Homo sapiens: one gene and its partner. The protein of the gene in region 1 interacts with the protein of each later gene in a biochemical or structural test. Each region holds a gene or a part of one and is shown in the gene's direction. Other genes may lie near its edges.

Region 1 (5,408 bases):
ATGGAATTTTGCTCTGTTGCCCAGGCTAGAATGCAGTGGCGCAATCTGAGCTCACTGCAACCTCCACCTCCTGGGTTCAAGTGATTCTCCTGCCCCAGCCTCCCGAGTAGCTGGGATTACAGGTGCGTGCCACTGCACCCAGCTCATTTTTGTAATTTCTTAGTAGAGATGGCGTTTCACCATGTTGGCCAGGCTGGTCTCCAACTCCTGACCTCGTGATCCACCTGCCTCAGCCTCCCAAATTGCTGGGATTAGAGGCGTGAGCCACTGCACCCGGCCAGCTTTCAGGTTTTCATTATCGAGTATGATGTTAACTGTGCACTTGCCATTTATGGTCCTTATGTTGAGGTATATTCCTTCTATAGCTAAATTGGTGAGAATTTTTATCCTGAAAGGGTGTTGAATTTTGTCAAATGCTTTTTCTGTGTCTGTTGAGATGTTTATATTATTATTATTATTATTAATTTTTTTTTTTTTTTTGAGATGGAGTGTTGCTCTGTCACCCAGGCTGGAGTGCAGTGATGCAATCTCAGTTCACTGCAACCTCTGCCTCCTGGGTTCAAGTGATTCTCCTGCCTCAGCCTCCCGAGTAGGTGGGACCACAGGTGCATGCCACCACACCCAGCTAATTTTTGTATTTTTAGTAGAGATGGGGTTTCACCAGGCTGGTCTCAAACTCCTGACCTCAGGTGATCCACCCATCTTGGCCTCCCAAACTGCTGGGATTACAGGCGTGAGCCACTGCACCTGGCTGGTTATATGATTTTTATCCTTCATTTTGTCAATGTGTGGTATCACATTTATTGATTTGCATATGTCATACCATCCTTGCATCTCAGGGATAAATCTCACTTGATATATGATTCTTCTAGTAGGCTGCTGAATTCGGTTTGCTAGTATTTGTTGAGGATTTTTGCATCTGTGCTCATCAGGGCTATTGGCATATAATTTTCTTTTCTTGTGTTGTCCTGGTCTGGCTTTGGTATCAGAGTAATGCTTGGCTTCATAAAATGAGTTTGGAAGTATTCCCCCCTCCTCCCTCCTTACTCCCTCTTCCCTCCCTCTTCTTCCTTCTTCCTCCTCCTCCCTTTTCTTTCTTCTTCCTCCTTCTTTCCTCCTCCTCCTCCTCTTCCTTCTTCTCCTCCTCTTCCTTTCTTCTTCTTTCTTCTTCTTGATAGAACTGTGCTATGAGGTCATCTGTTCCTGGGCTTTTTCTTTGTCAGAAGAGTTATGACTACTGATTCAATCTCCTTACTAGTTATAAGTCTTTTCAGATCTTCTATTTCTTCTTTATTTTAGTCTTGATAAATTACAAGTTTCTAGGAATGCATCCATTTCTTCTAGGTTATACAGTTTTTTGGTGAATAATTGTTCATGGTAGTCTCTTATGGTCATTTGCGTTTCTGTGTTATCAATGGTAACATCTCTTGGTTTTGATTTTATTTATTTTCGTCTTCCTTTTTACTAGTCAAACTAAAGCTTTGTTGATTTTACTTATCTTTTCAAAATCCAGCTCTTAGTTTTAGTGGTCTTTTCTATTGTTTTTGTAGTCTCTATTTCATGAGATTTTGTTATTTCCTTCTGCTAACTTTTTCTAGTTCCTTTAGATGTAAAATTACGGTGTTTATTTAAGATTTTTTTTAAATATAGGCGATTATTGCTATAAACTTTCCTTTTAGAACTGCATTTGTTCTATACATTTTGCTATGTCGCATTTCAATTTTAATATTTCTTGTGATTTTTTAAAATTTTCTTTTTGATTTCTTCTTTGACCCATTGATTATTCAGGAGTATTTTGTTCAATTTCCACATAGTTGTCAGCTTTCCAACTTTCATTCTGTTATTGATTTCTGGTTACATACCATTGTGGTCTGAAAAGATACTTGATAGGATTTCAGTCTTCCTCAGTTTGTTGAGTCTTGTTTTGTGACCTGCTGCATGATCTACGCTGGATAATTTTTCTTGTGTGCTTAAGAAGAATGTGTATTATCTGCTGTTTGATGGAATGTTCTGTATAAAGGTTGAGTATCCCCAATCCAAAAATCCAAAATCCAAAATGTTCCAAAATTTAAAACTTTTTGAGTACCAACATGATGCTGAAAGGAAATGCTCTTTGGAACATTTTTGGTTTTGCATTTTTGGATTAGGGATGCTCAGCTGGTAAACATAAGGCAGGTATTCCCAAATCTAAAAAATGTAAAATTCAAAACACTTCTAGTCCCAAGCATTTCAGATAAGGAATATTCAACCTGTATGTTAGATCCATTAGATCCAGTGTATAGTTGAAGTCCAATATTTCCTTACTGATTTTCTGTCTGGATGACCCATCCATTATTGAAAGTAGGATTTTTGAAGTCTTCTAGTATTATTGTGTTACTATCTATTAATGTCTTCAGATCTGTTAATATTTTCTCTGTTTATTTAGGTGGTCTGATGTTGGGTACATATATATATTTACAGATACTGTATCCTCTTGTGGAATTGGCCCCTTTCTCATTATATAATTACTTTCTCTGACTCTTTTTACAGTTTTTGATGTAAAGTCTGCCCTATCTGATAAAACTTTAGCTTCCTCTGCTCTCTTTTGGTTTCCATTTGCATGGAATATCTTTTTTCCTATACCCATGCATGTGCTTAAAGGTGAATTGAGTCTCTTGTAGACAACCTGTAGCTGAATCTTGTTTTCTTTATCCATTCAGCTGCTCTTTATCTTTTGATAGGAGAATTTGGCCCATTTACATTCAAGGTAACTATTGATGGGTAAAGACTTCTGTCATTTTGTAATTGTTTTCTGATTGTTTGGCAGATTATTTGTTTCTTCCTCTCTTGCTGTCTTCCCTTGTGTTTAGATGATTTTCTGTGGTGGTATGCTTTGATTCCTTTATATCTTTTGTGCATCTACTATTGGTTTCTACTTTGTGGCTATCATGAGGTTTACATAGAACATCTTATAGTTATAGTAGTCTGTTTCAAGCACTAACAACTTAATTTCAATTGCATTAAAAAACTGTACTGTTACTCAGACCCTCCTGCACATATTTTATGTTTTTGATGTCATTATTTGCATTTTATATTGTGTATTCATGAAAAAATTATTGAAGCTATAGTTATTTTTAATACTTTTTTTTAAAAACCTGTATTTTAGAATTAAGTAATTTACACATGACCATTACAAATTTAGTATATTATTAATTTGATTATATATTTATCTTAACAGTGAGTTTCATACTTTCATATGTTTCCATGTTGCTAATTAGTGTCCTTTCATTTCAGCTTGGAGAACTCTTCAGCGTTTCTTGTAAGGCGCGTCCAGTGGTGATAAACTCCCTCAGCTTTTGTTTGTCTGGGACTGTTTATATCTCTTTCATTTCTGAAGGACAGCTTTGCTGGGATACATATTCTTGTCTGGTAGTTTTGTCTTTCAGCACTTTGAATATATCATCCAACTCTCTCCTGGCCTACAAGGTTTTTGCAGAGAAATCCACTTGTGGTCTTATAGGGTTTCTCTTGTAGAAGATGAGTTTCTTTTCTGTTACAGTTTTAAAATTCTCTTTCATCTTCTATTTTTGCCAGTTCATTATAATGTGTGTCAGTGAAGTCTTCTTTGGGTTGAATCTTTATGGGGTCCTATGAACTTCCTGTACCTGGATATCTTTCCCTAGATTTATGAAGTTTTCAGCATTTTTTTTTTAAATCAGCTTTCTGTCCTTTCTCTCTTTTCCTTCTTGAATTCTCGGGTTTGTTTTTCATTTTCTTGGGTTTTTTTTTTTGATGGTGTCTTGTTCTGTCACCCAGGCTGGAGTGCAGTGGCATGATCTCAGCTCACTGCAACCTCCACCTCCCAGGTTCAAGTGATTCTCCTGCCTCAGCCTCCCACGTAGCTGGGACTACAGGTGTGCACCACCATGCCCAGCTAATTTTTGTATTTTTAGTAGAGACGGGGTTTTGCCATGTTGGCCAGGCTGGTCTTGAACCCCTGACTTCATGTGATCCACCCGCCTCAACCTCCCAAAGTGCTGGATTACAGGTGTGAGCCATCGTGCCTGGCCTTGAATTCTTAAAATGCAAATATTGTTTTGCTTGATGGTGTCCTATAATTCAGGTAGGCTTTCTCCACTATTCTTTTTTTTTTCTTTTTTTCTCCTCTGACTAGATAATTTCACATGATCTGCCTTTGAGTTCACAGGTTCTTCTGCTTGATCAGGTCTGCTATTGATGCTCTCTATTGCATTTTTTGTTGTTATGTTCTTCAGCTCCCGAATTTGTTTCTTTTTATTATTCCTATCTCTGTGTTGAATTTCTCATTTGTTTGTATATATTTTTTTATTTCATTATCTGTGTTCTTTTGTAGCTCACTGAGTTTGCTTGAAACAATTATTTTGAATTCTTTATCTGTTAGTTCATAGATCTCCATTTCTTTGTGGGTGATTACTGGAAAATTACTGAGTTTCTTTGCTAATGTCACGTTTCTTTTTTTTTTTTTCTTTCTGTTTCTTGTGGCCTTGTGTTATCTGTGTATTTGATGGACGAATTACTTCTAGACATTACAGATTAGTGTGTTTTTTTTGTTTTTTTTTTTGTGGGCAAAGATCTTTGCCTGTGGGTGAGGGTGAGGGTGAGGGCGCCAGCCAGTAGGTGTGGTGGTTCTGGCTCTGTGGAAGGCCCAGCATTGTGAACTCCATGCAGCTCCATTAGCCCAGATCATTGTCAGTGAGGATTGCAGGGGTCCTCAACATCCAAGGCTGCAGGTATCCATACCAGCAGCAAGGCTTTTTTTAGTCTATAGTGGCAGAGGCTGCTGGGGACCTCTTCATCACTTTTTCTCCCATGGGAGACATTGTGGCCAAGGGGATTCTTCTTGGCACAGGTTCTGGCTTTGGGCTTGTTGTGTTGGTGGAGGTGGCAGCACTGATGTCTCTGATGGCGTGGACACCTGTGGAGCAGCTACAGAGCCAAGGTTTGGAGTGCAAGTGTTTGCAGAAAGACAGCGGGTCTTGGGTTCAGGATGTTGACTAGCCTGCAGCAGTGGTGCTTCTAGTGCCTCAGATGTGGGTGCACGTAGAGCAGCCTTTGAGTTGGGTGCGGAGTGCAGGTGTGCAGAGCAGCCAGAGAGCTGGGATCTGGAGAGTGTGTGATTAGAGCAGCCACAGAGCAAAGGTCTTACATGAAGGTACATGTGAAGCAGCTGTGGCTCTGGGGTCTGGGGCATATGTGGGGGTTAGGGGCTGCACTGTCTGGGCAGTGCAAGAGCTGCTTTTTTTCAGGGTGAGGAGTGCAGTAGTGTCTCCCTCTCCAGGGGGTTCACAGCAGCAATGGGTGCTGGTTACCTTAATGGTGAAAGCTGTCAGTGTCCTCTGCAAAGTAGGCTACTGGGGTTGGCATCAATGAACACTATAGGGTCCTTCACT
Region 2 (4,453 bases), on another chromosome or scaffold:
TTTCCCTCCTCCTCACTTGTGATAACCCTGTGATGCATAGGTACATTTCAGCAGCCTCAGGACTGAGACTCTGGAAAGCCCTGCATTCGTGATGTGACATTGAAGTGTGCCCCATGTGTGTGCACTTGAGGCATTTGCTCAGCCCTCTGGAGCTGGTCGTCTTCTGGCCAGGGTGCTGTTCCATGTTTGTGGCTGAGTGACCATTGCGTATTCTTCATGCCTTTGAACTTTTTCAGGGAGCGCATGGAGCTTTTGGAAGAAGCCAAGAAGATGGAGATGGCCAAGTTTCGCTACATCCTGCCTGTGTATGGCATCTGCCGCGAACCTGTCGGCCTGGTCATGGAGTACATGGAGACGGGCTCCCTGGAAAAGCTGCTGGCTTCGGAGCCATTGCCATGGGATCTCCGGTTCCGAATCATCCACGAGACGGCGGTGGGCATGAACTTCCTGCACTGCATGGCCCCGCCACTCCTGCACCTGGACCTCAAGCCCGCGAACATCCTGCTGGATGCCCACTACCACGTCAAGGTGGGGGGCCGCACGGTGCCCGAGAGAGCTGGGCAGGGAGGGCCTGTGTCTTGGGGAGCAGGGTATCAAGGGGTCAAGCCCTGAGGTCAGGACAAGGGCAGAAGAGGAGGTGGTTCTTCTTGGAGGAAAGAGCTTGAAACCGAGGCCTTTTGCAGCATGAGGACTCCAGGAGCCTAAGCTTGTCCTGGTTGGTATGAAAACCACACGCCATGTAGCTGGAGGGTAGCTTGGTGAACATGGGGGCTGTTCCCCCAAATCTTGGCATATGACTCATTCCGGAAAAAGATTACGGGTTTGTGGGTTTTGGTCTTATGAAATCAGGTTAGAATTCAGCCCGTGGGCCAGGTGTGTCCTTGCGAGACCTTAGGCTCTGCAACAAAGGGACGCATTTCCCTCAGTGTTTTCAGGAGCTCGGGGTGGTGGGAATGTGGGGGTCCTCTGCAGTGGGGTCCTCAAAGTGCTGTGGAAAGAGGCTTGTGAGGAGGGGCTCGTTGCCTCTGTCTGCCCCTGCGTAGAGTGCGGAGTGGCAGCGTGTTGCGTTAGTGCAACGCCTGGGAGATGGAGCTTGCTTTTGCTTCGCTGATAGGTTTTTGAAACACAGAAAAGTAAGAGAGATAATGTAACTGAAAACCAGTGTTGCCTCTGGGCCTTGGCAGGTGTTAGCATCATCACCTTTGCATCAGGGCTGTATTTCCTTGTATCTCCTTTGATGGCCTTCGTGGCTAGGGTTGTACTGTCGTTGACATGTGGTGGTTACACCTGGCGCGTTGTAGTTTTTCCCCACGTGGTGATGTTCACATGCTCTTGGGAGGCCCAGGGTGATAGGCTGGTCCACATGACACTGGTGTCTGCCCTGGGAGTGAGAAGGAGCCGAGAGCCATGGTCCGGATCCATGTAGTTCATGCAGGGGACAAGCAGAGGAGTCCCCTGCCTGGCTTGGCTGTGCTACTGTTCCTGGTGGCACAGCACTTCCAGGCCTCTCTGATGGCCTGACCATTAATTAGGAGAGACCTGAATTCAGGGCCCGGCCCTGCCCCTGAGCTCTTGGGTGGGACGGGAGCGGTGGCTCGTATGGCATGCGCACGGCCGCTCCCTGTGCCCAGACTCTGCGGACGAGTGCATCTCGCGTGCCTTGCTCAGCCAGGGCGGTGGTGAGGAGGTCAATTTTTCACTTCGGGCAGTAATTATAAGTTGTCTCTTAGGTAGGTGTTGCGCAGTAATAAGATTTCAGCTAGAAGATGAAGCACCGTCCTGCGAAGTGAAGTAGGAAATTGAGATAATGGAGACAAAAATCAAATGACTTGGCTTGAACGGGCTCTCTGGTGGTTTCCCGCATCTGCTTATGTTCTGGGACCCCTGGGATTCCCGTTTCCTGTGATGGGCAGGGCTGGGCCTCACATGCGGACCCCCCATTCCCGCCAACATTTACGGGCTTGTTTCTAGGTAGCACAGGCTCTGGGGCCCTAATGACTAGTAAGCTCTGCCGTCCAACGTGCACTGAATACCGGAAAGGACATGCTAGAGGCTTCACCTGCGGGAGCTGCCCTCATCCTCAGAGCAGAGGTGCAGAGTGGACGGTGGCCTCTGGTTCTCGCTGAGTCTCTGCTTAGAGTGAGTAAATTAGCAGCCAGGATCGTCCAGCTGTAAGTCACGGAGCAGAGACCTTGATTTCCACCTGGCCTGCCACTGTGCTTGACATGAAAGAAACCAAATGACCACTGCACGTAGCAGTCACTTGGGGGCAGGGTGTGTGGCCCGCAGGCTGGGCCTAGAGGCGGCCCTGTGGGAGGGGGTGGGAGTGCTCCTGGGGCTGGGCCTTCACACAGGGTGGGGCTTTTCTGCCCTCAGGAGTCGGGGCAGGCAGCAGCAGAGCCTTTAGGTGAAGGAAACAGCCCAAGAGACGCAGAGAGCTCTGGGCCTTCCTGCAGGGGCAGCAGGCAGCAGGGCTTCCCTGTCTTTCAGGACAGCTGCAGGGGGCGGATGCTGCCTGGAACTGCTTTCTCAGGGAGGCTGCTGTCGAAGGCACGCTGGGTGCTGGCCAGGAAGTGACAGGACATCTCTGTGTGGTGCCCCTGGGACATCTTAGGGCCCTGTGTACCCTGACAGGCCGCAGGAAAGATTGCTTTTGTGTGGCGTCCTTCTTAATCAGGCATGTTAGTCACCATCAAGAAGCCCAAAAACAAACCGAAAAATACCTTTACGTGACATACTTATTTTTTCTGTGAAATAGCTACTGGTGTGCGTAGAGTGCAGCAGGGAGTGTGTGTCGGGGTTCTGAGAGTCAGCGCCTTTGTTCCTGAAGACGAAGTGTGGAAGCTTTGCATGGACTGACCACTGGGCTTCTGGGCAGTCCTCAGTAGACAGTTATTCAATGCAGGAAAACTGTAATCCAGAATCCTGCAATTAGATCCTAAGTTGCCATTCCAGTGCTGCCATTCGCCTCTGAGATGGGCTCCCTCAGTGCTCAGGGCTCGATTCAAACTGGAAATATCACAGCAACTGTCTACTTCATGAAGCAGTTAAATGTAAATAGTATACAAAGTAATAGTATCAAATTAATGCTTGATATTATTCAACATTACATATACTAAATACCAATATTAAGATACTAGTTGGAATCAATTTCAACTTAAAAATGAAATAACTTGGTTTAAAATCTCAGGCTGCATTTATATGTCCAGTTAGCCCAAAACAGACGCTTTTCAAAGGGTCACACGCGGGTCACGTTCTGCTGTGTCTTTCTTTTAGAGGCAGCAAAACCCCGGCAGGCTGCTTTCTTAGTCTTGACAGCTGGACCTTGAAGTTGAAGGGCCATGTGCTTGGGGGCAGCTGTGAGCCCTCAGCTCTTGGAGATGCAGAGTCGGGTGCTGATGAGAGTGTTTGTAACTCTTGAAGCATTTGCTGGTCAGAGTGGATGCCACAGTAGCTCGCTGTTGAGGACACGGGGTGAGGGGCAGCTTGGGTGGGAAGATGAGGAAAGGCGGAGGGGAAATGCAGCCGGCCAGGAGTCCGAGACATGGAGGGAGGAGAACATAGAGGGTCAGTGACCCTCCTAGAATTCTCAATTCCGAGCTTGCATTTTGTTGCCAGAGGTTTTACAGAGAATTTCTGCTCGTTTTCTTTTCACCAAGTATAGTTTGGAGTGGCTGGCTCTATCTGACAAAGACAGGAGGAGAAAAGGCTGCAGGCCTGGGGAAGCACCAGGCTGAGATCTCTGCACCCCTGTCGTTTTTCTTTTCTTTTCTTTTCTTTCTTAATGATCTCAGATGTCATTTAATTTTCACAACAAAGCTACAGGATGGGTACTGCTATTGCCTCCTTTTATGAAAAAAGGAAACAGGCACAGAGAGGCTAATAGTCCAGGGCCACGGAGCTACTAACTTGTACAGGCAAGATTAGAACAGTGAGTCTGATCCTTAACTAACCGTGGGAGGGAGATATTTTTTTCCTACATTCAACCATACAGGGGGAGGAGGAATTGCCTAGAAAGTATGTGATGCTTTCTTTATTTTTATTATTATTTTTTATTTTACTTTTAGTTCCGGGATACATGTGCAGAATGTGCCAGTTTGTTACATAGGTTTATATGTGCCATGGTGGTTTGCTGCACCCATCCACCATCTAGGTTATCACCTAGGTTTTAAGACCCGCATGCATTAGGTGTTTGTCCTAATGCTCTCCCTTCCCTCTTCCCCTACGCACCGACAGGGCCCGGCGTGTGATGTTCCCCTCCCTCTGTCCATGTGTTCTCATTGTTCAGCCCATTTCTGAATTTGAAGGCTTTCAAGCCACTGATGACTGTTGAACTGAAACTTCCTGTGCTCTGGAGCTATTTGGAGAGTTAGGACCCGTTGTTGTGTCCCAGCGTCCAGCAGCCGCCGGGGTTTGCAGGGTCGGGTGATGGCGTTCCTCTGGGGAGCTGGCG

The links. Proteins that work in one complex are often made in the same cells at the same time.
Region 2: the proteins of BIRC2 (region 1) and RIPK4 form a complex in vitro, tested with the Homo sapiens proteins (one study listed by BioGRID).

What each region holds. Positions count from the first base shown.
Region 1 is NC_000011.10:102,356,217-102,361,624, forward strand, and holds part of BIRC2 (baculoviral IAP repeat-containing protein 2), read left to right. Parts: intron 1-5,408. UniProt on the Homo sapiens protein: Multi-functional protein which regulates not only caspases and apoptosis, but also modulates inflammatory signaling and immunity, mitogenic kinase signaling, and cell proliferation, as well as cell invasion and metastasis.
Region 2 is NC_000021.9:41,752,600-41,757,052, reverse strand, and holds part of RIPK4 (receptor-interacting serine/threonine-protein kinase 4), read left to right. Parts: intron 1-236; coding exon 237-528; intron 529-4,453.